Linked DNA regions of Homo sapiens: all the other regions are linked to region 1. The links come from fine-mapping of genetic effects on gene expression. A gene starts in region 1. Each other region holds a variant in brackets. All regions are shown on one strand. Distances are from middle to middle.

Region 1 (9,752 bases):
GTGGGGAGGCCTGGCTGTCTGTCTTTTCCCTGCAGAGGGAAGGAGGGAGCCACAGTACCCAGAACCCTAAAGCTCAACTTAGTAACAACCTAATAGTAGCTAGGGCCTTCCTTTAGACTTTTCAGGAAGCAAGATCACACGCCTTATCTCCTTCCATTCTTCTGATAGCCTCCTATGGCCTGAATTATTACCATGCCCCCCTTACAGGTGTGACTCAAAGCGATAAGACGACTCCTCCAAGGTCACACAACAAGTACAACCCAGGTGTTCTAAGCCCCACATCTGGACTCATTTCCTGTAAATTTCATGACCCCTCTGCTCTGCTACTGCCCCTTCACACACCTCATCCCATCTTTGAGCCTAGTTCAATCCTATTTTCACCTCCTGCCTCCAGAGAACCCCCAGCCTTGTGAACGGCGTCTCTCTGGGCCAGGGGACCTCTGACACACAGCGGCCTCCCTCACCTCCTGGGCCAATTTGTGCTGTGAACCCTTGGGAGCTGCCGTTCTGGGACGATGTGTGACCCTGTGGGCCAGTACAGCTCATTTCAGGGAAAAAGTGACCACACAGAGCTTAGTTGAGGCTGGGGTTGCAAATGGAAGAAGGGAGGGATGTGGGCTGTGAACTCTGCTCATTCATTTGTCTAGCAAATGCACTGTGTGCCAACCCACGCTGGAGGTTCAGACATGAACTGAACACCACCCTGTCCCCAGGGAGGCCAAGGGGAAATCGTATTGCTTTACTCTCTAGGCATGCACTGGCTGCCCCAGCCCCCTGATGTGCGTGAACTCCCCCAGAAAATCAGGGTTATGCCCCTGAAACCTGGGGCAGAAAGAGCCCCCAGATGCAGGTACTTTTCCCCACCATGGTGGAGGAGTCTTGTCTGGAGCCCCAGGCACTCTGCCAGTAGTTTGGTATTTTCAGGATTTTCCCAGCTGCTCAGCAGGTTGCCCCAGCCCCATGAAAGGGCTCCAGGTGGTTCCCAAGAACGGGGAAGCAAGGCGTGAAAGAGCCTCTCTCTTGCAGGCATGGGAGTGGACAGCCCAGCGCCAGGCCACCCCAGCTGATGGGCTCCTGACCTGGATCACCAAGGCTCCACCCAAACTGTGCTGACATCAAGCCATGGTGGCACCTTGAGGTTCAGTCCAGGACCATCTTGTCTCACCTCAATAGGGGAAGGGGGGCTCAAAATAGACTTGAAAGCCAGGCACGGTGGCTCACACCTATAATCCCAGTCCTTTGGGAGGCAGAGGAGGGAAGATCACTTGAAGTCAAGAGTTCGAGATCAGCCTGGCCAACAGGGTAAAACCTGCCTCTACTAAAAAAAAAAAAAAATTAGCCAGGAATTGGCTAATTGGTAGTGGGCACCTATAATCCCAGCTACTCAGGAGGCTGAGGCAGGAGAATCGCTTGAACCCAGGAGGCGGAGGCTGCAGTGAACTGAGATTGCGGACTGCACTGCAGCCTGGGCGTCAGAGCAAGAATCCTAAAAAAAAAAAAAAAAAAAAAAAAAAAAAAGGGGAATAGACATAGAAAGTTGTAGTGTTCTTGCTTGGGGAGATAGCTTATTTCACGAAGAGAAATGACCTGCCCAGAGTCATACTTTAGGACAAACACCAGACTGGAATGAGTGGAACTTCCAGCCCCTCCAAGGAAATAGGACAAATTGGCCGGGCGCGGTGGCTCACGCCTGTGATCTTGCACTTCGGGAGGCCGAGGCGGGCAAATCACGAGGTCAGGAGATCGAGACCATCCTGGCTAACGTGGTGAAATCCCGTCTCTACTAAAAATACAAAGAATTACCCGGGCGTGGTGGCGGGCGCCTGTAGTCCCAGCTACTCAGGAGGCCGAGGCAGGAGAATGGCGTGAACCTGGGAGGCAGAGCTTGCAGTGAGCCGAGATCATGCCACTGCACTCCAGCCTGGGCAACAGAGCGAGACTCCGTCTCAAAAAAAAAAAAAAAAAAAAAAAAAGGAAATAGGACTAATTAACCTCTTAGAGCTGGGACAAAATAACATGAACTAAAATGCCCAGAACTCCATGTTAACAAACACTGGGATGTGGTATGTTGGTGCAAAAAAGTAATTGCGGTTTTTGCCATTGAAAGTAATGGCAAAAACCGCAATAACTTTTGCATCTACCTAATATGTGTTGGGGGTTGGGGGTGGATATTAGGGAGGGGCAAGTCCATGAAGCTGCAAGGATCATGCATGCCCAAGTCCCAGAGGCAGGCAGGCCCCAGCGGCCCCAGACAGGCAGAGACACACGCCTAGGCCTAAAGGCTTACAGGTCAAGTTACACCAAGGGTGCAGTTAAGACCTCAAATCCCTCTCCAAAGTCAGGGGCTTAGAGCTTGCCAGAAATTTCAAGTAGGTATGTATTCAAGCCTCAGATTTTTTATTTTGTTAATTTCCTCTGGTTACTCATAGACAGCTCTAGCCTAACGGGTTGGAGCAAAACTTGCTTCAGTGGATCCTTCGGAGAGAAATCCACAGGTCTGGGATTCCCACCATCAAAGAAAATGATCTTCTAATCACATCTTCCCTCAGAGGGCTAGGATGCAGTCTAGAAGCATCTACGGAGCCCCTCCCTGAAGCAGTTTGTTTCTACTCTAGGCGTCCTGAGGGCAGGGACTGGGCTTCGTTGTCTTTGTCCCCAAAGGCAAGCCTCCACTGTTGTTAAATGTTTGTGGAAGGAGCCTGAATTTGGGTAAGGAGCAGAATTACAAAGGGACCTAAAGACTTTGTCCCGGAGGTGTGCTTAATAGATATGGATGATAATTGGGAAAAGGAAAACAGATTACTAACAGCTAGCCCTAAGAAAACCGAAATACTTCATTTAAAATGGAAGGAAAGAGATGGGGAGAGGGAGATGTCTCAGAGAAAATAAGAAACGTTTTTTTTTTGTTTTTGTTTTTAACTTAAGCTATGATTTCAGGAGAAAGAGGTCCTGGAACGCCAGGAACCAGGGAGGACTTCCACCTGGAAGCAATGTGGTAGAAGGAGACCCACTGAGGGCCTGCATATGCCCAGCAAATGGCCAGGTGCCTTTGTTTGTTTGTTTGTTTGTTTTTTGAGACAGGGTCTCCCTCTGTTACCCAGGCTAGAATGCAGTGGCATGATCTTGGCTTACTGCAGCCTCAACCTGCAGGCTCAAGTGGATTCTCCCATCTCAGCCTCCCAAATAGCTGGGACTACAGGCATGCACCACCACACCTTGCTGATTTTTGTATACTTTTGTAGAGATGGGGTTTCGCCAGGTTGCCAGGTTTCTCTTGAACTCCTGGGCTCAAGCGATCCACTGGCTTCAGCCTCCCAAAGCAGTGGGATTACAGGCATGAGCCACCGCGCCCAGCCTAAGTGATCTCTTTTAATATTCACCCCAATAGGGGAAGGTAGAGATTGCTGTTCTCACTTTACAGATGGGGAAGCTGGTGGATAACTTGTCAGCTCATAAATGGCAGAGCTAGAATTCCAATCCAGAGGCGTCTCCAAACCTCTATCCAGCGAGCCTTACCCACAGTCCTGTTGCAGCTCCTACTTCTTTTGAGGACACCTTTGGCACTAGGTCATGATGACAGCAATCACCTCCATTCTGGTTGCTTTCTAGTCATAAAGCGCTTTCACACCTGATATCTCATTCCTCTTTACACCCTCCAGACGAGGCTAGCAGAGGGGTCCTGTGCTCTTTGGACACATAAGGACAGCCAGGCTAGCTAAGGGTCAGAGGTGGGAATTAGCGACTTCCCCATGTGAAAGGGAATAGAATCTCGGGACCCCAAATTCACTATGTCAAAGGGAAAGTTTAATCCCAGCACTTTTGGAGGTTGAGGTGGGTGGATTGCTTGAGCTCAGGAGTTTGAGACCAGCCTGGGCAACATGACAGAACCCTGTCTCTACAAAAGAAAAAGTACAAAATATGTAGCTGGGCATGGTGGCGCACACCTGTAGTCTCAGCTACTCAGGAGGGTGAGGTGGGAGGATCGCTTGAGCCCAGGAGGCCAAGGCTATAGTGAGCTACGATTGCAGCACTGCACTCCAGCCTGGGCAACAGAGCAAGACCCTGTCTCCAAAAAAAAAAAAGGGGCGGGGCTGGGGGGGACGTTAAGCTTGGAAACCACAGAAGCTGCTTTCCTTTTGTTCCCAGATAGCTGCAGTTTCACAACCCTGTTGACACAGGGTTTCCTTTGCTCCCCTTAGACGTACTGAGTAGGAGACAATGCATCATTGACTTTTTCTTCTATTCCCTTTCACATGTAAAATGTAGACTTACAGACACTAAATCAGAGCCTCACACGCTTGTGACCTCAATGCCTTTCCTCCCTCTCTCCCTCTTCTTTTCCTTTCCTGCTTGCTTTTTCTCTTTTAAATACAGAAGTTCCCAAAACCTTTTTGGAAAAAAGGTGATTTTTCCCCGGTGGATCCTCAACCTTGGCTAACTAAACCTCTATTTGATTGAGATCTGCCTTAGTCACTTTTTGGTTTACATCCATGATAACCCCGCCAGGGTTTGAATCCACAGTGTCTGCCTCCCAAGTGGCTCCAAACCCTACCTTTCCCTCCAGATGTCCAGTTCAGAATTTGATTTTACTTATTATTCATTTATTTTTTTTTTTGAGATGGAGTCTACCTCTGTCACCCAGGCTAGAGTGCAATAGCGCGATCTCGGCTCACTGCAACCTCCACCTCCCAGGTTCAAGCGATTGTCCCGCCTCAGCCTCCTGGGTAGCTGGGATTACAGGCGCCCACCACCATGCCCGACTAATTTTTGTATTTTTGGTAGAGATGGGGTTTCGCCATGTTGGCCAGGCTGGTCTCAAACTTCTGACCTCAAGTGACCCCCCACCTGCCTTGGCCTCCCAAAATGCTAGGATTACAGGCATGAGCCACTGCGCCCAGCCCAGAACTTAATTTTCACAGCAGGATGGAGTGGCCAAACCATTAGCTCTCAAGAGCTGGTTGCTGTCGCACTGCAGAGGGAAACGGAAATGTGCTGTCCCCAGAAAGCAGAATGTTCCTGAGGGCTTAGGGACCTCGCAGCCATGGGGAAAGTCTGGGGCCTTCACCCTCACTTCCTTTAAAAACCGAGGGTGGGGTTCAGCTAGAGGCAAGGGAACTTTTCACTTTGCGCCTTGTCCACTTTAGTTGACTACTTCGCAGCTGGCATTCTACCTTGATAATGATCATTTCAACTGAAACTATTCCTCTAAAAAGAATAGAGTCCAAGGCCTGGGACTTGGATTCAGGCTCTGGGACTCAGGAGTTGATCCTCCTTGACGTTCACCTGGTGCAAATTTAGCCTCAGCTGATACTTAGGAGGCAAAGGCACAGACGGGGATGCGGGGAGCTCAAGGGCTGTCACCCTGTAGAAACATTTCTGACGCCCAGTCCAAGCCTGGCCTCGGGGCTGGCCGGCTCCTCCCCGCTCCCTCGTTTACAGCGAGAGTCTGGGATGGCACCCACGAAGCTGGTGGCGCCAGCCCTCCTGCCCCATCTCCCGACAGTACTGCAGCCAGGTGGTTAGCAGGTCCGGGAGGGAGCAGGAACGAGGAACGCCACCCGGGCTGGAGTTCTTGGTTTCTTGCCCCGGCTCGAATGGGGAAGAGCCTCAAAAGAGCCTCGCGCCAGGCCCCCGGAGGGAGACGCGCCCCTGGCCCTGGGGGCCCCAGTGGGGGTTCGCGGCCGGAGCGCAGGCTGGGGCGGGAGTGTCTCCCGGAAGCCGGGCGGGCCCAGGCTGCCCCATACGGAGTTGGGAAAGTCTCAGGCTTTCAGTTTGAACCGAGGAGGCCGAGCAGTCGGGCAGAGGTTCCCGACGGCCATTGGCTGCTGCGGCGCCGTGACATCAGCGCAGAGGGGTGCGCGGGGAGGGTTGCGCGGGGCGGGCGCGGGCGGAGCCTGGAAGGGGAGTGTCCTGGAGGCTCCCAGCCCTGAAAGCCCGAGAGCCAGAGGGAAACAAACGCCGGCGCTGACAGGGGCCGCCAGCCCCTCCGCCGCGCGGAGCCCACGAAGGGGACAGCGCAGCCGGCCCAGAGCTCGGGTCTCCGGGGACCGAGGTAGGCGACGGGCAACCGCCTCTGTCTGTGGTAGCCGCCTTCGCGCTGGGTGCCCTGGGTGGGCTTGGGGGTCTCGAGTCCCCCTGTGGGGCAGAGAGGATCGAAGCTGGGGATGCGAGGCCGCGGCGCGGGGAGAAGGGCGCGGAGCCCCCACTTCTCGGCGCTCGCGCTTTTCACCGCGCCCACCGCGGTGCCTGGGACCCTAAGCTGCGCACCTAGTGTCCTGGCAGAGCGGGATGTGTGGAGGAGGAGGTGGCAGGGAGCCGGGCGCAGCGTTGCCGGGACTCCATTTCCTCTCTCCACGCTGGAACTCCCGGCCCTGGCCAAGGGTGCCGCTGAGGGGGTTGGGGGCCGGTTTTAAAGGGCCTCCCCCTTCCCAGGAATGGGGTGTGTGTCGGTGTGGGCAGGAGCGCAGCAATCGGCGGCGCGCGGCCCGCGATCTCCGCGAGGGGGGCGTGTGTGCGCCCGGAGTTCTCCATGAATAAGAACCGAATTCTCCGCCTGTACGGGCAGAGGCGTGTACACATCTCGCTCTCGTACACACACTGCAGCACACGCCACCCAATGTCACCCGGCCGGGAAGCCAGAGGGAAGGAGCTGTCTGGAAGGGAATGGCCGAAGGAACAAATGGTCCTCCTTTCCCCTACTCCCGCCCCGCGAACCCTTCCCTCCCCCGCCAGGCTCCCGCCCCGCCCGCTCCCTCGGAAGCCCGGGAGGCCGAGGCGCCTCCTGGCGGGGTGCGGGGGGAGGGCAGTCGAGCCACCCGCCCCCTTGGAGCCGGGGAGACGGCCGCTCCTGGGCTAGTGCGCCCCGAGCTCAGCGCGCTCAGCGGGATCGCAGGCGGGAGCGGTCGGTTAATGATTTAATCGCCCGCTTGGGGCGGGTGCGCGCGGATCGGCCGTCCCTGGCCCCGCCCCCTCTCCGGAGCGCCCCCAGCCGGGGTTACAAAACTGCCCCCTGCCCCCGGCGCGTCCCCCAGGAGCCATCCTGCCCGCGGGGATCCCGTCAGCCGGTGAGTGCCCCGGCCGGGAGGGCTGGAGAGCTGGGCGGGAGCCGGGGCTGAGGCTGAGCCAGCTTCCTGGGAGAGGACTGAAGTGCGTGTGTGTGTGTGTGTGTGTGTGTGTGTGTGTGTGTGTGTGTGTGTGTGTGACTGGGGGAGGGGTGCTCGCTGCTAACTCAAACCAGGTTCCCTGTGTTTTCCCAGTGACTGCGGCCTCGGCTTTGGAAGTTTTCTTTTTCTCCCTGGGAGAATGGAGGGGAAATACAATGCCTTTTCTTTTCTCGTTGCCTCTGGAACTTCTCTCTCTCCACGACTCCCACCCCTTGCAATCTGACCGGCTCCCACATCCCTTACTGTGTGCCCGGTGCCCACTGTTTGCCCAGATAGCTGAGCAGCTGGATCCGGGTGGAGTCCTTGGGAGCCCCCGTCGCTGCGAAGCCCCCTGCCCTCCCCTGAGGGTCCAGGGTGCTGGAGGGAAAATCTCTCTCTCGTCCGAACCCCAGCAGCCATCTGTACCAGAGAAATGTCCCATCCAGCGAGTGTAAATAATGAGGGGCCGGTGACAGGGGCCTCCTGCAAGGCGACTTCTTTGGCAGTCTGGGTTTCCAATAACTCCCTCAGCCCCCGCCCGCTTCTGAGGCTAGGGTGGAGGAGGGACCACCAGCAGGGTGGACTGAATTTTAAGAGAACAAAGAACAGGCCACAAAGGAAGGGATTGCTGAGCTGCGGATTTCTGATTTCTCCCAGAAATCGGGAGTTGGCTGGGACTGAGCCAGGCCCTAAGAGAGCCCCTGGCAGCCCCAGGGGCTCCTGGGGCAATAACAGGGCATCCACCAGGATCTCCTGAGGCTCTATCTCTGCTGAGAAGCCAGTGCCTACTGAATGCGGGGGTGCCCTGCCGGTTCCTGCTCTCATCAACTGCCCTGTGTGAGCTGCACATGTGACTGACTGATTAGTGGGGTGGCTTATCTCCTCTGAACTTGGACTTTGCCTCTCCACTCCTTGAAGACAGCTGCTCCTTCCCACAAGGGGTGTTCAGTGAATTTGGGGAGATCCCAAGTGGATTCCCAGGCATCCTGGTGGACCCCTGCAGGGACTAGGAGGGGCCCGCTGTGATCATATGGGCGGTGGTTCTGGGGTGAGTCTCAGCGCCTCCCCTCTGAAATCTCCCTGAAGTCCTAGGGTCCCTGCACACAGAGGGCAGCTTGCTCCTGCTCTGCTGTACAGCCTAGGCCTGTGCTGTGAATGATTCTCCATTTTCTGGGGTTTCTGCCTCTCTCTTTTTGGATTCCTCTTCTCTTTTCCCCTCGTTTCTCTCTTTCCCTTGCCCACCCACCGTGCTTGTCCCCATCCTCTGTACCCTGCCTCCACTGTGCTGCTGCCTCTGGAACCCGACAGCACCTCACAGAACCAGAGACCAAGGAGTCAGAAGCAAAGGGAGGTCTCATGTATAAAGGTCAGGGGAGTGAGTGTTGACCTGGGAGAGGAATCTTACACCAGTCTTTTGATTTTAAAAATAATTTTTATTTTATTTATTAATTTTTTGAGACCAGGTCTTGCTCTGTCACCCAGGTTGTGGTGCAGCGTCATAGTCAAGGCTCACTGCAGGCTGGACCTCCTGGGCTCAAGCTATCCTCCCACTTCAGCCTCCTGAGTAGCTGGGACTACTGGCGCCCACCACCACGCCCAGCCATTTTTTGTATTTTTTGTAGAGGTGGGGTTTCACCATGTTGCCCAGGCTGGTCTTGAACTCCTGAGCTCAAGGGATCTTCCCCCACCTCGGCCTCTCAAAGTGCTGGGCATACAGGTATGAGCCACTGCACCTGGCCAACCCTTTTTTTTTTTTTTTTTTTTGGAGACAGAGCTTTGCTCTGTTGCCCAGGCTGGAGTGCAGTGGCACAATCTTGGCTCACTGCATCCTCCACCTCCCGGGTTCAAGCAATTCTCCTGCCTCAGCCTCTGCAGTAGCTGGGATTATAGGTGCATGCCACCACGCCCGGCTAATTTTTTTTTGTATTTTAGTAGAAACAGGGTTTCACTGTGTTGCCCAGGCCGGTCGCGAACTCCTGAACTCAGGCAATCCACCCACCTCGGCCTCCCCAAGAGCCGGGATTACAGGCGTAAACCACTGCACCCAGCCCTGGCCAACCCTTCTTAACAAGTCCAGAGCTTTTCCAGAAGGGCCTTGGGTTGGCAGTGGCCCAGGGCTTCCACCCCTTTGGAGTGACTGATTGATTTCTGCGGCCCGGACTGTCTGTGCGCAGGTGTGGCCAAAAGGTGTTTGATGTTGGCCTCTCCCTTTCACTCTCCCCCACCCCACGCCCCTACGTTTGGATTGGGTTCGAAGTGAAGAAGTCAGAAGTCAGAGTGGTCAGGGTTGCACTTGGTTAGCAGTAAGTCCAGCCTTCTGTGTTCTCATTCTGGTTCTGCAGACTCAGAGGAGTTTGTCCCTGTGGGGGGAGGGAGGAGTCCGTCCCTTGGAGGAATGGGGAGCTGGGTTGATGCCAGAGATAAGGCCTGTGGGCGGAGGGAGAAGGGTTGAGCAATCTCGCCCTGGAAACAGAGCTGACCTGAGCTCTGCGTAGCTCTTCTGACCTACGTACTGGAGGATTTTTCCCGACCGTGAGGAAAAGAACCAAATTCTGGAGCTGGGGACACTTTGAGGGGTCATCCGGCAGAGTGTCCTGAAGGCCAACTCCA
Region 2 (9,752 bases), 59 kb before region 1:
GGAAGAGCTGGAACACATAACCCTTAGCTGTGTCTGCCTCCCGCACCAGTGTCCAGTTGACTCTCATTCTTGGCGGCTGGTTGTTACTCCAGAGAAGAGCCCCAGTGCCATGGCTTAAGTGGGGAGTAGGAGAGACGCAAGGCACCTCATCCCACAGGTGGGGAGTAGGAGAGACACAAGGCACCTCATCCCACAGGTGGGAGGAGTGTCAGCAAAGGGGAAGAGCTTACCCAAGTCACACAGCTCATTAATACAGGTAGTCCCGATTTAGGATGGAATCCAGCATAAGAGTCTCATTCCATCTGGGGTGAAGGAGGAGGAAGGAAGGAGGAAAGGCATGTTGCCAAGGAAGCCCTAAAGATGGATGACACCCCTCAAGGCATTGCCCAGGAGCACCAGCTGGGAAAACTAAATATTGCCCCCCTAGCATATGCCTCCCATGGGAAAAGAAAGGGGCCAGGGCAGCGCCAGCAGCAGTGTGGCAGCCACCAGACTGTCGAGGCTTGTAAGTGGTGAGTTAATAGACAGACCCAGGAAAATGTGCAGGTGCACAACACCATACAGAATACAGCAGAGGCCTACATGCTCCAGAAAACATGACCCGTACCTGAGCGGCAACTGTGGATGTGAACGGAGAAAGTGCTACCTCCTGGACCTGTGATAACCAAGGTACTGACATCAACACGCACGAACATCAGTGACGCATTAACTTCATCAACCCATGAGCACACCGAAGCTGATACTGCATTCCAGTCAGACTGCACCCAACTGGTGCGTGGCAGGCACATTCATGCACGTTCTGAGAGCTCCAGTCTTTCAGTTGGTCAATGACACGTGTTTATTGAGCAGTTATTGTGTGCCCAGCATTGTGAGCTTAGATGTTAGGGAGGGAAGGCCAACACGGGGCAAAATAAATAATACCGCCAGGTGGTGGTAAATGAAGCAGGTTAGGGGAGAGCCAGGTCCATGAGGAGGTTTGAATTTTTTTTTTTTTTTTTGACACGGAGTCTTGCTCTGCCGCCAGGCTGAAGTGCAGTGGTGCAATCTCAGCTCACTGCAACCCCCACCTCCCAGGTTCAAGCGATTCTCCTTCCTCCGCCTCCCAAGTAGCTGGGATTACAGGTGCCTGCCACCATGCCCAGCTAATTTTTGTGTTTTTAGTAGAGACGGGGTTTCACCATGTTGGCCAGGATGGTCTCAATCTCTTGACTTCGTGATCCACCCACCTCGGCCTCCCAAAGTGCTGGGATTACAGGAGTGAGCCAGCGCATCCAGCCTGAAATTTTATTTTATTTTAGTTTAGTTTATTTTATTTCTTTCTTTCTTTTTTTTCCTGAGATGGAGTCTTGTTCTGTCACCCAGGCTGAAGTGCAGTGGTGCGATCTTGGCTCACTGCAACCTCTGCCTCCCAGGTTCAAGTGATTCTCCCACCTCAGCCTCCTGAGTAGCTGGGATTACAGGTGCCTGCCACCATGCCCAGCTAATTTTTGTATTTTTAGTAGAGACAGGGTTTCACCATGTTGGCCAAGCTTGTCTCGAGCTCCTGACCCCAGGTGATCCGCCCTCGGTCTCCCAAATTGCTGAGATTACAGGCGTGAGCCACTGTGCCCAGCCAGGGTTTGAAATTTTAAATGGGTTGTTAAGGGCTGGGCTCAGTGGCTCACAACTGTAATCCTGGCGCTTTGAAAGGCCGAGGTGGGTGGATTGCTTGACTCCAGGAGTCCAAGACCAGCCTGGGCAACATGGTAAAAGCCTGTCTCTACAAAAAGAAAACAACAACAAAATTAGCCGGGTGTGGTGGCACATGCCTGTAGTCCCAGCCAACGGGGTGGGAGGTGGGAGGAGTGCCTGAGCCCGGCCGAGTGAGGGTGCAGTGAGCCATTGTTGCACCACTGCACTCCAGCCTGGGCAACAGATCAAGACTGTCTCAAAAAAAAAAAAAAAAAAAAAAAAAAAAAAAGGTTGTTAGGAAAGGACTTAATGAGAAGGTGATATTTGAGCAAAAACCTGAAGGAGAACAGGGCACAAATCACATGGATCCAGAAAGAGAGGAAAAAAGAGCAAAGGTCTCAGGGTAGACAGGTACTTGGGGTATACGGAGAGCCTTGTGTGTCCCCAGAGTGAGTTCCAGGGAGCGCAATGGGAGATGGGAAAGCCGGGGCTGGAGCACCTGGGGTCCTTCGGGGCTTTGGCTGTCACTCTTGAGTGAAGTCCTCTGAGTGGAGGACTGGGACCTTCAGAGGGTCCCGCTGGCTGCTGTGCTGAGCAGAGTCTGAAATGGGGAAAGCCCAGAAGCTATGGGGAGGCATCTGAACTATCCGGGTGGGCCATGAAGGGGGCTCAGATCAGGTGAGAGCAGAGTGAGAAGTGGCCACTCTCAGTTAGTCCCAACAGCAGAGCTGGTAGAATTTGCTAACAAATCAGGCTGGGCACAGTGGCTCACACCTGTAATCCCAGCACTTTGGGAGCCCAAGGCGGGCAGATCACTTGAGGTCAGGAGTTCGAGACCAGCCTGGCCAACATGACGAAACCGCATCTCTACTAAAAATACAAAAATTAGCTGGGTATGGTAGCGCATGCTTGTAATTCCAGCTACTGGGGAGGCTGAGGCAAAAGAATCCCTTGAACCCAGAAGGCAGAGGTTGCAGTGCACCAAGATCACGCCACTGTACTCCAGCCTGGGCAACAGAGCGAGACCCCATCTCAAAAAAAAAAAAAATTACCGACAAATCGAACATGGAATGGGAGAAAAGGGAGGCAACAAGGACAGCCCCAGGGTCCACAGGATGATGGAGCAGGAAAAGACAAAGCTGGTGAAGGAGGAGGCTAGGGAAATCTGGAGTCTGGTTCCAGATGTGTTTGGTTTGAGACGTCTGTTGGACATTCGAGGGGAGACAGAACAGAGTCAGAGATGCATGTCTGGAGTTCAAGAGAGAAGGATCAAACCAGAGATGTGAATTATAGAGTCCTCGGCATATAGATGGTACTGAAAGCTAGAGATTAGACAAGGAAAGATAAAGAACAAAAGAAGTCTACAAATTGAGCCCTGAAACCAAAAACTGAGTGATGTCTCAGAGCTCATGGGAAGAACATGCTTCCAGAAGGAGGGAGAACCTCTGGAATGGGAGAAATATTTGCAAACCATACATATGACCAGGGGTTAGTAGCCAAAATATGTAAGGAACTCATACAACAAAAGTGAAAGAAAATGGGGCAAAGGACCCAAATGGACATTTCTCAAAAGAAGATACATAGGCTGGGCACGGTGGCTCATGCCTGTAATCCCAGCACTTTGGGAAGCCAAGGTAGGCAGATCACCTGAGGTCAGTAGTTCGAGACCAGCCTGGCCAACATGGTGAAACCCCGTCTCTACTAAAAATACAAAAATTAGCTGGCCATGGCGGCAGGCACCTGGCTGAGGCAGGAGAATCGCTTGAACCCAGGAGGTGGAGGTTGCAGTGAACCCATATCATGCCACTGCAGTCTAGCCTGGGTGACAGAGCAAGACTCCAACTCAAAAAAAAAGAAAAAAGAAGATATATAAATGGTCAACAGGTATCTAAGAAGGTGTTCAACATCGCTCAGCATCAGGGAAATGCAAATCAAAACCACAGTGAGATATCCCATCACACCTGCAAGGATGGCTGTTATCAAAAAGTCTAGAGATAAGTGGTGGTAAGCGTATGGGGAAAAGGGAACCTTTGCACGCTGTTGGTGGGAACGTATATCAGTACAGCCATTATGGATAACGGTATGGAAGTTCCGCAGAAAATTAAAAATAGAACTCCAATGATCCAGCAATCCCACTACTGGGTATTTATCCAAAGGAATTGAAATGAGGCTCTTGAAGAGCTATCTGCAGGCCCATGTTAATTTCAGCATCATTCACAGTAGCCAAGATGTGGAAATAGCCTGAGTGTCTGTGAATGGATGAATGAATGAAGAAAATGTGGTTTATACACAGTGGAATACCATCCAGCCTTGAAGGAAATCCTGCTGTTTGCAACAACACGGATGAACCTGCAGGATATTATGCCAAATGAAATGTACCAAGCACAGAAAGACAAATACTGCATGACCTCGCGTATATGTGGAATCTAAAATAATCAAACTCATAGGAACAGAGAGTAGAACAGCGGTTGCCAGAGGCTGAGGGAGTGAGGGAAATAGGGAGAAGGTCCCAGGATACAGCGTTTCGGTGAAGCAGGCTGAATACGATCTAGATCTAATGTACAACATGGTGATGATAGTTAATGATACCGTATTGTACACTTGAAATTTGCTCAGAAGGTTCTCACCACAAAAAGATGATGAACATGTTAATTAGCTTGATTGTGGTAATCATTTCATAATGCATGTGTATATCAGAACACCATGTTGTATACCTTAAACACATACAGTTTTTTGGGGTTTTTTTGTTTTTTGATTTTTTTGTTTGTTTGTTTTTTTCGAGACAGAGTCTCACTCTGTCACCCAGGCTGGAGTGCAGTGGTGTGATCTCCACTCACTGCAACCTCTGCCTCCTAGGTTCAAGGGATTGTCCTGTCTCAGCCTCCCGAGTAGCTGGGATTACAGGCACCCACCACCATGCCCGGCTATATATAGATCTTAGATTGTCAATTATACCTCAATAAAGCTGAAAAAAGAAATGAAAGGGCAGAGAATTGGGCATAGTAAATGGCAGGTTCGTGATTATAATGGTGCACTCCCATGCTTGCCCCTGTCCACATAAGGCATTTATTCATCCAGCAGATATTGATTGAGGACCATGGATGTGCCAGCCATGATTCTAGGTGTTTGGGTCCCAAGGGGGCCACATGGACCGAGATGCCTGCCCGCTGGAGCCTGCATTCTGGCAGACTCCTGGTTACCCATCAATGTGCCCCATGCAGCTCAGCAGTGTGCCCCATGGGAACCAGGATCTGGGCTCAGTCCCTTTATGTCCTTTGCACGCGTGTCAGTCCCTCTCACTGTGAATCATCAGCTAACAAAGGTCCGCAGAATGCAGCGCTCACAAACAAGATGCACCTGCCGGAGTGCCTGGTTTGTGAAGACAGCTGTCCCTGGGTTCTAGGCCCCGACCCACTCCTCACCCAAGAGCATGACTGCAGCCATTGGCCCTTCCTCTCCTCCACCTCCCCAGTGGATAGCTCCCACGGGCAGGGCAGAAAAGCATTCTGAGATATGTTTCCTCTTTTTATGCCTTTTCCTGACCTCACTTTTTTTTTTTTTTAACGGACTCTCGCTCC[G/A]TTGCCCAGGCTGGAGTGCAGTGGTGCTATCTCAGCTCACTGCAGCCTCCACCTCTCGGGTTCAAGTGATTCTCCTGCCTCAGCCTCCTGAGTAGCTGGGATTACAGGCATCCGCCACCATGCCCGGCTAATTTTTGTATTTTTAGTAGAGATAGAGTTTCGCCATGTTGGCCAGGCTGGTCTCAAACTCCTGACCTCAGGTGATCCACCTGCCTCAGCCTTCCAAAGTGCTGGGATTACAGGTGTGAGCCACCGCACCTGGCCTGACCTCACATTTTCTTCCAGTTGTCACCCATTTCTTTGGCCCCTTTACAGCAGAATTCCTCAAAAGAATCTTCTGTACTCACTCCCTCCGATTCCTCTGCTCTCTTTCTCCCTTGAACTCGCTCCAAATAGGTTCTCATCCCCGCCACCCCACCGAAGCTCTTCCTGCCAAAGTTGTTAATAATTCCCATGTTGCTCATATCGAGTCAAACCACAGGCTTATCCTGCCTGACTCAGCAGCTGTGTTTGACACATGGATCTCTCCTTCCTCTCAAAATGCTTGCTTTCCTCAGCTTCCCTCGCTAGCTCTTCCTCCCCACCAACCACTGAATGCTGGAGGCCCCCAGGGATCAATCCACAGCCCTCTTCTCTACCTAAGAGAATCCATTCATTCTCCCAGTGTGCACTCACGGAAGACCACCTGTGTGCTAATAATGGCAAACTTTTAGCATCAGCCATGACCTTTCCAAATCCAACAGGAACTTTGTTAACTGTTGTACCCCCATTAGTATGAATGCATGAGTGAATGAATGATTTCATACATGACTGCCTCTGCTTTCATTCATCTATCCATATGAGAAGAATCTGCTTTTCGTTATTTTTATGTTATTTTAGAGATGGAGTCTTGTTCTGTTGCCCAGGCTGGAGTGCAGTGGTGTGATCTCAGCTCACTGCAACCTTCACCTCCCGGGTTCCAGCCATCCTCCTGCCTCAGCCTCCCAAGTAGCTGGAACTGCAGGTGCACACCACCACTCCTGGCTAATTTTTGTGTTTTTAGTAGAGACAGGGGTCTTGCCATGTTGCCCAGGCTGGTCTTGAACTCATGGGCACAGGCGATTCCCCTCTCTCAGCTTCCCAAGTGCTAGGATTACAGGTGTGAGCCGCTGCACCCGGCCCTCTCCCCCTTTCTAAAAAAGAAATCACTACAAAAGAAATCCCCATCTCTACGAAAGAAATAGCCAGGTGTGGTAGCACTCATGTAGTCAGAGCTACCTGGGGGGCTGAGGCGGGAGGATTGCTTGAACCTGGAGGTCAAGGTTACAGTGAGCCAAGATCATGCCACTGCACCCCAGTCTGCGTGACAAAATGAGACCCTGTCTTGAAATAAAATAAAATAAAATAAAATGGGAGAGAGGGCCGGGCACAGTGGCTCACACCTGTAATCTCAGCACTTTGGGAAGCCAAGGTGGTTGGATCGCTTGAGCCCAGGAGTTCAAGACCAGCCTGGGAAACATGGCAAGACCCCGTCTCTACAAAAAATTAAAAACTTAGCTGGGTGTGGTGGTGCACACCTGTAGTCCTGGCCACTCAGGAGGCTGAGGTGGGAGGATGGCTTGAGCCCAGGTGGTTGAGGCTGCAGTGAGCTGTGATCGTGCCACTGCACTCCAGCCTGGGCAACAGAGTGAGGCCTGTCTCAAATAAAAAAATAATAATAAAGGGGGAGAGGGATTGGAGAAAAGCAAGGATTTCATGGTAACAAGATGTCCTAACTGCCACCCATACATGCCAGTGGGGACACTTTTATTAGCTCTTTCTCACTTTATGGGCTTCCTCCAGGGAAATGAGAAATTGAAAAGCCGGTGACATGCAGAAACCTCATTGGCCAGCAGGGGGCGCCAAATGACCTCCAATTTTGCACGTGGCTGGGCCCAGCTGGCCGCTATCTGGATGGCCTCAGTCCTGGAACTAGCAGAAGTGTTAACCTGTGCTACAGAGGAAATGATTGAAAACAATGGCTGGGCTTGGTGGTTCGCGCCTGTAACCCCAGCACTTTGGGAGGCCGAGGCGGGCGGATCACAAGGTCAGGAGATCTAGACCATCCTGGCTAACACGGTGAAATCCCGTCTCTACTAAAAATCCAAAAATTAGCCGGGCGTGGTGGCGGGTGCCTGTGTCCCAGCTACTCGGGAGGCTGAGGCAGGAGAATGGCGTGAACCCGTGAGGCGGAGCAAGATCGCACCACAGCACTCCAGCCTGTGTGACAGTGCGAGACTCCATCTCAAAAAACAGAAAGGAAGAGAAAACACCAGGGAGCATCTGTTGTGTTCCTGGCCTAAAGCCTTCTGCAGCCACGGGGTTCCTTAGGAAACTGGCCAAGTACCTGGGTGAAACCCTTAGAACCTGCACCCCTCACACGGACCCCAGGAAGTACGTGTCCTTAACCTCACTGAATGTACGACAAAACTGCAGCTCTGGGAAGTCAGCTGGCCAGGTCCCGCTGCTGTATGCGGTGCAGCTGGGATTCAGCCTCCCGCTGCCCGCCGTCTTGGCCGAGGCCTTCCTCTGCAGCGGGCCTTGTTCCTGTTAACCAGCAGCTGCTGGTGCAGCGGGCCCGGGGTGGCCCTGAGACTCTGCATCCCTCACCAGCTCCCAGGTGACATGAGGCCACCAGCACTTGCACCACACTCTGTCTGGATAGACTCCACACTGCCTTATCTCCCCAGCTCAGCCTCCCGTAGGACGGATTTGCTTTATTCCTCCAGGAACTGTACTAAGTGCTGATGTGCCAGCGCTATGGTAAATCCTCCAGGCATGGCGGGAAACACAGACACTTGGGGGCCATGCCCTGGAGTTTACTGTCTGGCAGAGACCAGGGTCTTGGCTGTGAAAAGGAAGGTTCCAGAAAGGTTTCTAAAACAGTTCTTAAATTCTTTTTTTTTTTTTTTGAGATGGAGTCTTGCTCTGTCACCCAGGCTGGAGTACAGTGGCGTGATCTCAGCTCACTGCAACCTCCACCTCCCAGGTTCAAGTGATTTTCCTGCCTCAGCCTCCAGAGTAGCTGGGACTACAGGCACTTGCCACCATGCCCGGCTGATTTTTTTGTATTTCCAGTAGAAACGGGGATTCACCATGTTGGCCAGGCTAGTCTTGAACTCCTGGCCTCAAGTGATCCACCCACCTCTGCCTCCCAAAGTGCTGGGATTACAGGTGTGAGCCACCGCACCCGGCCTCTTAAAGACTTCTCCGCTGTTTCCCAGGTGACTCACAGCAATGAAGGTGTCTCTGAGACTACAGGTCAGCAGGGACAGGAGGGACTCTCATTGCCCCTGTCCCCCTCACTCCCACATCCTTCTGTTCCCACAGATTTATTTCTGGGAAGCCCAGCGGGGGAACCTCACAGAGCGAGTGAAGACGCTTTTCCTGGCTGAGAACAGCGTGAAGCTCAAGAACTTGACTGGCTACACGGCCTACATGGTCAGCGTGGCCGCCTTCAACGCCGCTGGGGATGGGCCTCGGAGCACCCCCACCCAAGGCCAGACCCAGCAAGCAGGTGGGAGAGGGGGCCCTGAGGAGGGGAGGGGTAGGTCGGCCACGGGGGGTTGCAAGAGGACCTACCTGGCATCCGGGCTCTTGGCAGGCATGGGGGCAGCTGCCTTATCCGCCTGAGGATCTGGTCGTGGTACCCAGGTCCCCAGAGACACCCTCCCAAGTGGGAGAGCCCATTCTCAGAAAAGAGAAGCTGTCCCCATAAAGCCTTGAGAAACCCCCACACCTCATCCCTGTCCTCCCCACCGTTTGCCCCGCCTTGCAGACGGACAGTCAGCACCCCCAGCCCCTCCCAGCCAGCCTACTTCTGCTCCCTGCCTTCTTCCCACCTGCCTTCCCTCTGTCTCTCTGGCTTTGTTCATTCCACAAATACTGAGTGTCTTATGAGCCCGTGCCATGCTAGATGCTAGGGACACAACAGTGAGACCAGCAAGGTCCCCACCCTAGTGCGGGGGACAGATCATAAGCAAGTTGATGAAGTAAATGCAGACGGGGGTCAGCACAGGTGACCTAAGAGTGAGGCAGGAGTGGGTGGATGGCTCTGGATAGGCTCACCCACAAAGCCCTCCCTGAGGAGGTGAGATTTGAATGAGAAGAGGCCGGCAGGGGCCAGGCATGGTGGCTCACGCCTGTAATCCCAGCACTTTGGGAAGCCAAGGCAGGTGGATCACCTGAGGTCAGGAGTTTAAGACCAGCCTGGCCAACATGGTGACACCCTGTCTCTACTAAAAATATAAAAAATTATCCAGGCATGGTGGTACGTGCCTGTAATCCCAGCTACTTGGGAGGCTGAGGCAGGAGAATCACTTGAACCCGGGAGGTGGAGGTTGCAGTGAGCCGAGATTGTGCTACTGCTGCACTCTAGCCTGGGTGACAGAGTAAGACTCTGTCCCAAAAAAAAAAAAGACAAGAGGCCAGCCATGAGATGCTCTCAGGAGGTGGCAGAGGGTGCTGGGGGCTCCAGGCAGAGGG
Region 3 (9,752 bases), 24 kb after region 1:
ACTTAGCTGCCCTCAGCCCTGCCACAGTTTGAATGAAACACAGTCTTCCGCCTTCCCTGTGCTTTCCTATCTTTGCAGGGTAAGGCTGGTGAGTGTTCCAGAAAGTACTGGATTTTTCTCTGGTGACTAAAGCCAGAGTCCCTCACCTCTTAGAGTTGTGGCCCATGTCCCAGTGAGCCTCTTGCACAACCCCCTCCAGCGTGCTGTTCCATCTGACAAGCCTTGTGTAGCAGAATGCCACCTGTGTTTCGGCAAAGTGAAGTTCCGCCTAGGGGTAGGATGTCAGCCCCTCCTGTGAGAAGGGGCCGTGGCCTGCCAGGCAAAACCTGGGAAAGGATGGCCAGGACCAGAGGCTGCCCCTGGAAGGCCTGGAGTCCCATTTGATCCTGTCTTTTCTCTCCTCCCTGGTCTGGGCCCTCCACAATCCCGGGTGTCTCTACCTCCAAAACATGGCCTAAATGTCTCCCACTGTGTCCCCCTTCGCCAGACCCACATCCTGGTCTCCATCCTCTTTGACCTGCATTTCTGCAACAGCCTCCTGACTGAATTCCAGCTCCCCTCCTTCATTCCTCCAATGCCAGGACCTCCGGGAGCTTCCAGATACACAGATTGAATCACTCGCCTGCTTACAAACAGCCGCCGGTTTCCTTGTACACCTATAATGACCTCCAAACTCCTTACCTGGGCTGGGTGCGGTGGCTCATGCCTGTAATGCCAGAACTTTGGGAGGCCAAGGCGGGTGGATTGCTTGATGCCAGGAGTTCGAGACCAGCCTGGCCGACGTGGTGAAACCCCATCTCTAAAAACATAAAAAAATCGGCCAGGAGCAGTGGCTCCTGTAATCCCAGCACTTTGGGAGGCCGAGGCGGGCAGATCACCTGAAGTCAGGAGTTCAGGACCAGCCTAGCCAACATGGTGAAACCTGGTCTCTCCAAAAAATTCAAAAATTAACTGGGCATGATGGCAGGTGCCTGTAATAAAAACTAAAAACAAAACAGAACTCTTTATGTGGCCTGGTAGGGAGGGCTCTATGTAACCTGGGCCCTGGCTGCATGGATTTTTATTCTATTCCATAAATGCCACAAGCCTGTTCCTATACCCCGGCGTTTGCACGCGCCGTTCCCTCTGCCTGGGTCGCTTCTGACCCGGCTGGTTCCTTCTCATCATTTGGTTCTCAACTCATGATGCTCCTTCCTCAAGAGGGGCCTCCCCCAGACCCCCTGACTCCCACACCCACTCATACCACCCCTTTCCCTCCTTATACTGAGGAATATGAGATACCATTTATTTTATTTATAGGTTTACACCTCCATTCCCCACCCCCACCCCCCACACTCACACTACACACGTGCCCTGGGAAAACAGCGTGCTATTTTCACTGCTCTATCTCCAGGGCCTAGAAGAGTTTGTGAATATCAGTGGGTCTGCAGGAAGTCATGGAGTGAGTGACTGGATGATGAGTAATGGAACAAAGCCTCTTGTAGCCGATCCAGGTCACAACTAAAGTCATCGTGCACTAAAAGCCCTCTGCTATTCGGCCACATTGCCTGGACCTGGCATCGGGTGGTTGGTTAGAACAGCTAGGGGAAGGCCCTGCAGAGGGCATGCTGCCCAGCAGCAGTGGCGGAGGCAGTGGCAGTGGGCATTGAGGCATGTTGTGTACCCTGTATACCGGGGTGAACCGCAGGGCAGCTTCAGAGAGCGAGGCCTGCCTAGCTGCCCCATGAGAGCTCAGGTCTGGCGCCTGCCTCAAGCCAAGCTGCCAGGGACAGGCCACTGCCCGGTCACTTGGAGTGAGAAGTGTTGGTCCCGTCTGTCCTTCTGCTCTGGGTCTGCTGGGCTGGCCAAGCTGGGAGGGCCAGGGAGGATAGGCGAGGGGTCCAGGCAAGGGTGGTCTTCCGTAGTCTCAGGAACAGGGCTGAACTAAAGGTGTGGTTGCTGTGACCCAAGCAGGGGCCTGACCTTCTGGGGAGGGCTCCTCGTTCCCACCTTAAAGGAAGGTTCCGTGGTCAGTGGGCTGAGGGTAGAGGAATCTGTTCCTCCGGAGGCTCAGGAGAGCTAGGGAGGGCTGTGAGCTGTGATCCATTTTCCCTCTCCCTGCCAAGAAAGTGGGATGTGGTTTCTGGGGTGGGGTGGGGGTGTCCCGCCCAAGGCAGGCTATGGGGAGTGCCTGCCCCACGTTGGGCAGCCTATTTTAGCCACTTCCCCAGAGCTGAGTCACCATGCTTCTGAAAGCCCCGCCCAAAGCCACAATGCCCTGTGGCCTCCCAAACCATAGCTGCCCCCAGGACCTGCCCAGGCCTCTGGCGAGACTCCCACCACCTACTTTCTCTTAAACTCTATGATCCAGCTCGTCACCTCCAAACTGTTCTCTGTTAGAAGCTCAGAGTGACTCAAGGTCACTCAAGGCTGGTGAAACCAAGCTGTTGCTGACCCTCAATCCTGCTGGGTGGCCTGTCTAGTCTGAGCTCCAGACACCCAGGCCTCATCCCCAGTGTGGACTGCCAGGTACTGCAGCCCCCTCCTCGCTGGGGCAGTGGGACAGATGCGTGACTCCCTCTAGGCCCCAACTCTCTCAGGACCCTTCCTTGCTGGTTATTGAAGATGGCTTTCTACAAGCCACAAAGTCTCGTTCCCAACCCCCCAGGAAGCGAGACCGTGGCAGCAGGCAGCACTGGGTAGACCTGTCCCTGTCTTTCTGGGGTGTGGGGTTGAACAAGATCCTGGGGACCCCAGGGCTAGCCCAGGATGGCCGTGATTTCAGCTGAGTTTCCCTGCTGTCCCCTCTGACCTACCTCAATAGTTCTACCCGCAAGGATGTGCTGGGTGGTGTGGCTAATGGGATGCGGGGAGCTGTCCTCCCCTGTAGCCATCATGGCCAGGATATTTGGTCCCTTTGGGCAGCCACAGTGACCTGCAGCTTCTCTGGTGAGTCCTGGGGAGCCGGGTCTGTGGTTTCCCTTTCTTTCCTCTCTAATGAGCGTATAAGATCGGGAAACCACAGGACCTGACATCACTCACAGGGTCTGGGGGTTCCTGCCTTGGCGTTGAAACCCTTAACGCAGCTCTGGGGGCTCGTGCCGCCATGTTCTCACCCGGTTCTGACCATCCACACCCGCCTCCCTGCTTCTCTGTCTTTGTTGTTTACCTGGTGAGCATACCTGCTCTATCTTCACCTGTGTGTTCTCACTCAAGGCTGCTGTTTCTCAACTGGGGCAGTTTTGCCTCCTGGGGGACATTGGGCAATATCTTGAGACAGTTTTGCTTGTTGTGACTGGGGGGTGGATGCTACTGGCATCTAATGGGTAGAGACCAGGGATGCTGCTGAATATCCTACAGTGCACAGGGCAGGTCCACCTCCCGATGAGAAATTATCTGGCCCAAATAGCAACAGTGTGGAACCTGCTCTAGGATTACACAAGAACCTTCTTGAAGCAGCTGTTGGGTACCCCCTTCTCTGTACCCTGCCGGCCAGCAGTGGGGAGGAGCACTCAGTGGTCGGTGGTCACTGACCAGCAATGCCGCCGCCAGAGCTGGAGAAGGGCCTGGAGTGGAGCGGAGAGAGCTCTGGACTCAAAGACCCAGTTTCTAGCCCAGCTCTGTTGCTTTGGGCTAAAAACCTGGATAAATCACTTTCCTTCAATAAACTTGTTTCCTCATCCATAAAGTGAAAGTGCTGCACTGAATATCCCCTCCAGTTCTTTGAGATTCCTGGATGCTGTGCGTAGAGCCAGGAGTCGGGGTGCAGGCAGGTGGAAGATGGGGTCCCCTCCGTTCCTGACTGGTGTCCCTGCTGGTGGCAGTAGAAGCCTGAAGGATTTGCCAGGAACGAGAGTTCGTTTGAAGCTTGGCCTTTTTCCCTTCTATGCCCAACGTGACTGAGGCAGAGTCTACCTTCTCTTTTTCTTTTTCTTTTCTTCTGCTGCTTCTTTTTCTCTTTCTTTCCTTCCTTGCTTTTCTTTTCCTTTCTTCCTTTCTTCTCTTCCTTTCCTTTCCTTCTTTCCTTTCTTTTTCTTTCTCTCTTTCTTTTTTTCTTTCCTTATTTCCTTTCCTTCCTTCCTTTCCTTCCCCTCCCTTCCTCCCTCCCTTCCTCCCTCCCTCCCTTCCTCCCTTCCTGTTTTCTTCAGAGTTTTGCCTAGGAGCCCATGGCTGGCCAAGAGGGTCATATATGATATTCAGGAGTCAGCAAACTACAGTCCATGGGCCAAACCCAGCCTGCGTTTGCTTTTGTAAATAAAGATGTGGCTTTTTGGTGGTTTTTTTTCTTTTACTGGTTTATTACAAAAGATACGACTCAGGAACAGCCAAACGGAAGAGCTGCATGAGGATGCGTGGGGTCAAGTGTTGGGGTGGGGGGCAGGGCACGCACCACCTTCCTGG[C/T]ACCTCGATCTGCTCACCAACCCAGAAGTTGTCTGTAAATAAAATGTTATTGGAACATAGCCATGCCTACTTGTTTACATGTTGCTATGGCTCCTTTCTTTCTTTTTTTGATTTTGTGTAGAGATGGGGTCTCACCGTGTTGCCCAGGCTGGTCTGGAACTCCTGGGCTCAACTGATCCTCCTGCCGTAGCCTCCCAGAGTGCTGGGATTACAGTTGTGACCCACTGTGCCCGGCCAACGGCTAGTTTTATACTAAGAAGACAGTTGAGTAGCTGTGACAAAAACCCTATCAGCCACAAGGCCGAGAATATTTACTCTCTGGCCCTTTGCAAAAAGTGTTTGCTGACCTTTGGTCTAGCGGTTCAATGTCTAATTGTTTAGAGGTTGAGGTGGGGCAGGAGGGTGGGGCCCAGAGATAATCCAAGTTAGAGTTAGGGGAAGGTCACTTTCCTAAGGGTAGGGAGGAGAGAGAGCTGACCTATGACCCAGAGTAGAGTATCATCTCAAGGCATCCCTCACGTCCTCGCCCACGTCACTGTGTGGCAAGTCTGCCAGGTGCCTGGCTCCCCCTCCCTGCCCGAGAGAACTTTGTGTTTGCTGGAATGATAAGCGGTATGGCGTGGGCACTGGGAGGGGGGACATTGCTGGTGGGGGAAGCCATGAGGCTGGGCAGCAGAGGCTTGAGAGAACAGGGAAGCGGATGGGGGTGAGGATGCAGAGAGGTCAGGCTGGGAGCCCTGGAGCCAGGCTGTGGGCAGAAGGGGAGGAGAGGAGGGAGGTGCTGGACTTCCAGTGGGTGCTTGGAGGCGGTTGGAGGCGGACCATGTGTCACACCCTGCTGGACCAGACTCGGTGGTAAACAGACCTGTTAAAACCCTCTGGATGGACCAGGCGCGGTGGCTCACGCTGATCCCACGTCCTGATCCCAGCACTGGGAGGCCGAGGTGGGTGGATCACCTGAGGTCAGGAGTTCGAGACCAGCCTGACCAACATGGTGAAACTCCATCTCTATCTCTACTAAAATTACAAAAAAAAAAAAAAAATAGCTGGACGTGGTGGTGTGCACCTGTAAATCTCAGCTACTCAGGAGACTGAGGCAAGAGAATCGCTAGAACCCGGGAGGCAGAAGTTGCAGTGAGCCAAGATCATGCCATTACACTCCGGCCTGGGGGACAGGGCGAGAATCTGCCTCAAAACCCTAGAAGTTTGTACTGCAGTGGGAAGATGAGAGTCCAGCCAGCAGGGACAGAATAATGTAGCCAGTATCTGCTGGAAGAGGGGACATCTCCCAAAGTGCCGTGGGGGGCAGGTGGTGGCTAAAGGTTTCCTGGGAGTAGTGATGTGTCCCAGCTGAGCCCTGAAGGATGCTGGGTGTGGCAGGGGTTGCATTGGGGAACTGTTTGTATCCACTGCAGCTCAGGGGATAGATCAGGGTACAAAAGTAGGGGACACTGAGGAGCGAGGTGGGGACTAGTCATTGGATCAAGGGGTCTGCACTGGGTAGGGCGTCATGTGGATGGGTTTTGTTTTAGCCAAGAGGTGAAGGATGGACAGGAGGGAGACCAACAGGGAGACCTGTCAGGCTGATGTCAGGGGCCAGGTGGGGTGTGGTGGGCTTGTGTGACGCAGCGGCAGGCATGCGGAGGAAGCACCCAGCATCTGAGTTTTGCAGTGGGAAGAGTGGGTCTGGACTGGGGGTGCCTCTCAGAACTGTGCTGCTGGCTGGACTGGGAGGCAGGCAGGTACCTGGTGTCCAAGCATCACCTCTCACCCACCATACTTTGTTAAATCCCTGCACCCATCTCTCCCCAACCTGCCCAGCTCTGCTGGGCTTAGTATTTGGGGCAAGCCCCTCTAGGGAAGAGAGGGGCTGGTTTGGCCCCAATGCTGAACTTCAACTTGGCCCTTGTCAGGAGCTGTGAGAGTGGTGCCTCCAGGCTCCTGGGCTCTACCTCTGCTGTTTTTTGGATTTCTGGTGAATCACCTAGGAATCAGTCTGCAGATCCTGGGGGGACGAAGTCATTTAGGGTCCAGTCCCTGCCTCCCACTCCCCTAATGATGAAAGAAACTGGAAGTTGCCCAATCTTGATCTCCCCGAGACACCAGAAGGTGGACCCTCAGCAAAGAGCCTGGGGCTCCACAGTGGAGACGTCACAGGCGGGATCCTCATTTATGGGATACCAAGCGAAGGCTGAAAGGCTGGGGAGCTGGTTCTGTGGGTCCCAGCAGCCCCACCCCAGTTCTGATTCAGAAAGAGGACTGTGCCGCCCACGCAGGGGGAGGAGCTGGTCAGCCTCTGTCTCCCTGAGCCCGTCCTGTCCTTTCCCTTCTCTCTCTGAGGACCAGGACTCAGGGTGGGGTGTCCACTAACTCCACAGGGATCGAGGTTAGACAGCAGGAAGAACTTACAGCACATCTCCAGGCTGACTGTTCATAGGAGCCAACTCATAGACTCCATCTCTTCCCTGGCTTGCTGCCTGGAATTGCTGGATTTACCTTCGCGTCCTTAAATGTGGTCATGTTTACTCTGGCAGCATCCTGGCTTGCAGGGGCAGGGGAGGCATTGTCTTCTGCAAGAAAGGTTCTGTCTCTCTCAAGTTTCAGGGAAAGTGTGTCCGAGGCTACTGGAACTCTAACCAGATTTGCAAAATCACTCCTCTACTCTGAATGCCTGCGGATGAAGAAACAGGCAGGGTTATACCATGGATTGCTGGCTTATTTCACAGCATTTAACTTTGGTAGGAGCGCTGGGGTTTAAATGACAGTCCCCTGGCAAAGAGGCTTTTGTGCCGTGTGGCCAGCCCGCGTTAATCCTTTGCCTCTCATTCTCTGCTTGCAGCCTTATGATCTCCTCATTGCGTCCCCCTCTGCCCACTGGACTTGGACTTCAGATCTGACCCCAGACCTGCCGGCTACCTCGGGAGGGCCCACCTCCCCGCCCATCCAGCAAGATGCCAATCCTCAAGCAACTGGTGTCCAGCTCGGTGCACTCCAAGCGCCGTTCCCGAGCGGACCTCACGGCCGAGATGATCAGCGCCCCGCTGGGCGACTTCCGCCACACCATGCACGTTGGCCGGGCCGGAGACGCCTTTGGGGACACCTCCTTCCTCAATAGCAAGGCTGGCGAGCCCGACGGCGAGTCCTTGGACGAACAGCCCTCTTCTTCATCTTCCAAACGCAGTCTCCTGTCCAGGAAGTTCCGGGGCAGCAAGCGGTCACAGTCGGTGACCAGGGGGGAGCGGGAGCAGCGTGACATGCTGGGCTCCCTGCGGGACTCGGCCCTGTTTGTCAAGAATGCCATGTCCCTGCCCCAGCTCAATGAGAAGGAGGCCGCGGAGAAGGGCACCAGTAAGCTGCCCAAGAGCCTGTCATCCAGCCCCGTGAAGAAGGCCAATGACGGGGAGGGCGGCGATGAGGAGGCGGGCACGGAGGAGGCAGTGCCCCGTCGGAATGGGGCCGCGGGTCCACATTCCCCTGACCCCCTCCTCGATGAGCAGGCCTTTGGGGATCTGACAGATCTGCCTGTCGTGCCCAAGGCCACGTACGGGCTGAAGCATGCGGAGTCCATCATGTCCTTCCACATCGACCTGGGGCCCTCCATGCTGGGTGACGTCCTCAGCATCATGGACAAGGAGGAGTGGGACCCCGAGGAGGGGGAGGGTGGTTACCATGGCGATGAGGGCGCCGCTGGCACCATCACCCAGGCTCCCCCGTACGCCGTGGCGGCCCCTCCCCTGGCAAGGCAGGAAGGCAAGGCTGGCCCAGACTTGCCCTCCCTCCCCTCCCATGCTCTGGAGGATGAGGGGTGGGCAGCAGCGGCCCCCAGCCCCGGCTCAGCCCGCAGCATGGGCAGCCACACCACACGGGACAGCAGCTCCCTCTCCAGCTGCACCTCAGGCATCCTGGAGGAGCGCAGCCCTGCCTTCCGGGGGCCGGACAGGGCCCGGGCTGCTGTCTCAAGACAGCCAGACAAGGAGTTCTCCTTCATGGATGAGGAGGAGGAGGATGAAATCCGTGTGTGAGGCGGACAGTGGGTGGCCACCGGGAGCTCTTGGCTGCATCTTCTCCCTGCCCCCACCCCACTATGACCTTTGACCCTACGGCGCAGGGGCAGCCAGGACCCTTGATTCAGACCATGGACCCTGGACCTTGTAGATGAGGGACACTGGCCTGGCCCTCGGGTCTTCGGAGGACGTAGGGGGCTGGCATGGGTGCCGACTGGCTGCCTGACTTCATCATGCTCCCTGCACTTAGGCTGCGTGGGACAAGGGCTGTGTTGTCACAGCAGGAATAGGTTTTCCTCTGTTGGCCTCCCTTTCCTCCACCCTGGCCTCAAATGGATGCCAGATGCCAACCCCAGTTCTGGCCACGTACAGCCAGCGGGTCAGCCCAGAGGCAGCCTCAGCTCCAGGGCTAAGGACTCTCGGCTCCCATTTTCTCTGCTGGCGTTTCTGCTGTGCCCAGCAGTGGCTGCTGGGGAAGCAGCTGCAGCAGGAGGGAGACGGTCTTGCCTCTCAGCCCCTCCCTGCCCCACCCCAGCTCCTGCCCTGGAAATCTGGAGCCCCTTGGAGCTGAGCTGGACGGGGGGCCAGCTGCGAGCATGTGCACTAAACGCAGCCCTTTCCAGGGGAAGAGAACAGGATGGAGAATGGAAGGAAAGCCCCCCAGGCTTCGTGAATTGCAAGAAGGGACCCTTCCAGGATGACACTAGGAACAGGGCTAGGGCACTCGCTCAGTCCCTAGGGGCTTGTTTGTTCTTTATTATTGTGTTTAAATCCTTATAGAGCAATATCAGGATGGTGTTAATAGGTCTGCCTCAGAATGAGAATCAATCCTTTTAGAAAACCTTTATACTAAGCCTCCTCTTCAAAATTCACAGTGGCGATTAGCGGACTGGAGTCTGGTGGCGATTAGCGGACTGGAGTCTGGGGACATCCGTGGCAAAGACACCAGCTCAACTTTAGTGCTTCCCAACTTTATTTAGAATGACATGGGGTGGGTGTCTGGTGTGTGTGTTTTCCCTACGCACCTCCCATAGCTATTAACAACTGAGGAAGGCCAGTGCAGAATATTTTTGGAGAACGATTTTTTTTTTAAATAATATATCATTCCTATGGGGGGAAAGCCTTTTTTTTCTTTTTGGCTGAGTTATTCCCTCCCTCCCCTCAATACCCTCAGTACTGACTACTTCCCTTTCTTTTCTCAGGCCTCCCCCCACCGACTTTTGAGGCCAGGGTTGGCCAGATTTAGCAAAACCAAAACAGAGTGCTGAGTTAAACGCAAATTTCAGGTAAACAAAAGATAATTTTCTAGCATTAATATGCCCCACGCAATATTTGGAACACTTATGTGAAAAATGATTTGTTTTTCTG

What was found.
Region 2: its variant is fine-mapped to the expression of CDC42EP4 in whole blood (TOPMed, PIP 0.95).
Region 3: its variant is fine-mapped to the expression of CDC42EP4 in whole blood (TOPMed, PIP above 0.99).

Annotation. Positions count from the first base shown.
Region 1 is chr17:73,308,193-73,317,944 of GRCh38, reverse strand. It overlaps CDC42EP4 (CDC42 effector protein 4), which reads left to right and starts at 5,944. Exons shown (of 2, transcript NM_012121.5): 1 at 5,944-6,052. RefSeq lists silencers at 5,566-5,725, 5,796-6,055, 6,506-7,055, 7,066-7,195.
Region 2 is chr17:73,367,439-73,377,190 of GRCh38, reverse strand. SDK2 (sidekick cell adhesion molecule 2) reads left to right here. Exons shown (of 45, transcript NM_001144952.2): 37 at 8,598-8,784. Among named protein-coding and RNA genes, the nearest start is that of CDC42EP4, 60 kb to the right of the region's middle. The variant G/A (reference allele first, on the strand shown) is at 5,250.
Region 3 is chr17:73,284,080-73,293,831 of GRCh38, reverse strand. CDC42EP4 (CDC42 effector protein 4) reads left to right here. Exons shown (of 2, transcript NM_012121.5): 2 at 7,220-9,752. The coding sequence starts at 7,332. The coding sequence ends at 8,402. Among named protein-coding and RNA genes, the nearest start is that of CDC42EP4, 23 kb to the left of the region's middle. RefSeq lists enhancers at 1,847-1,916, 1,183-2,064, 2,048-2,342, 2,317-2,396, 2,687-2,906 and 3 more. The variant C/T (reference allele first, on the strand shown) is at 4,381.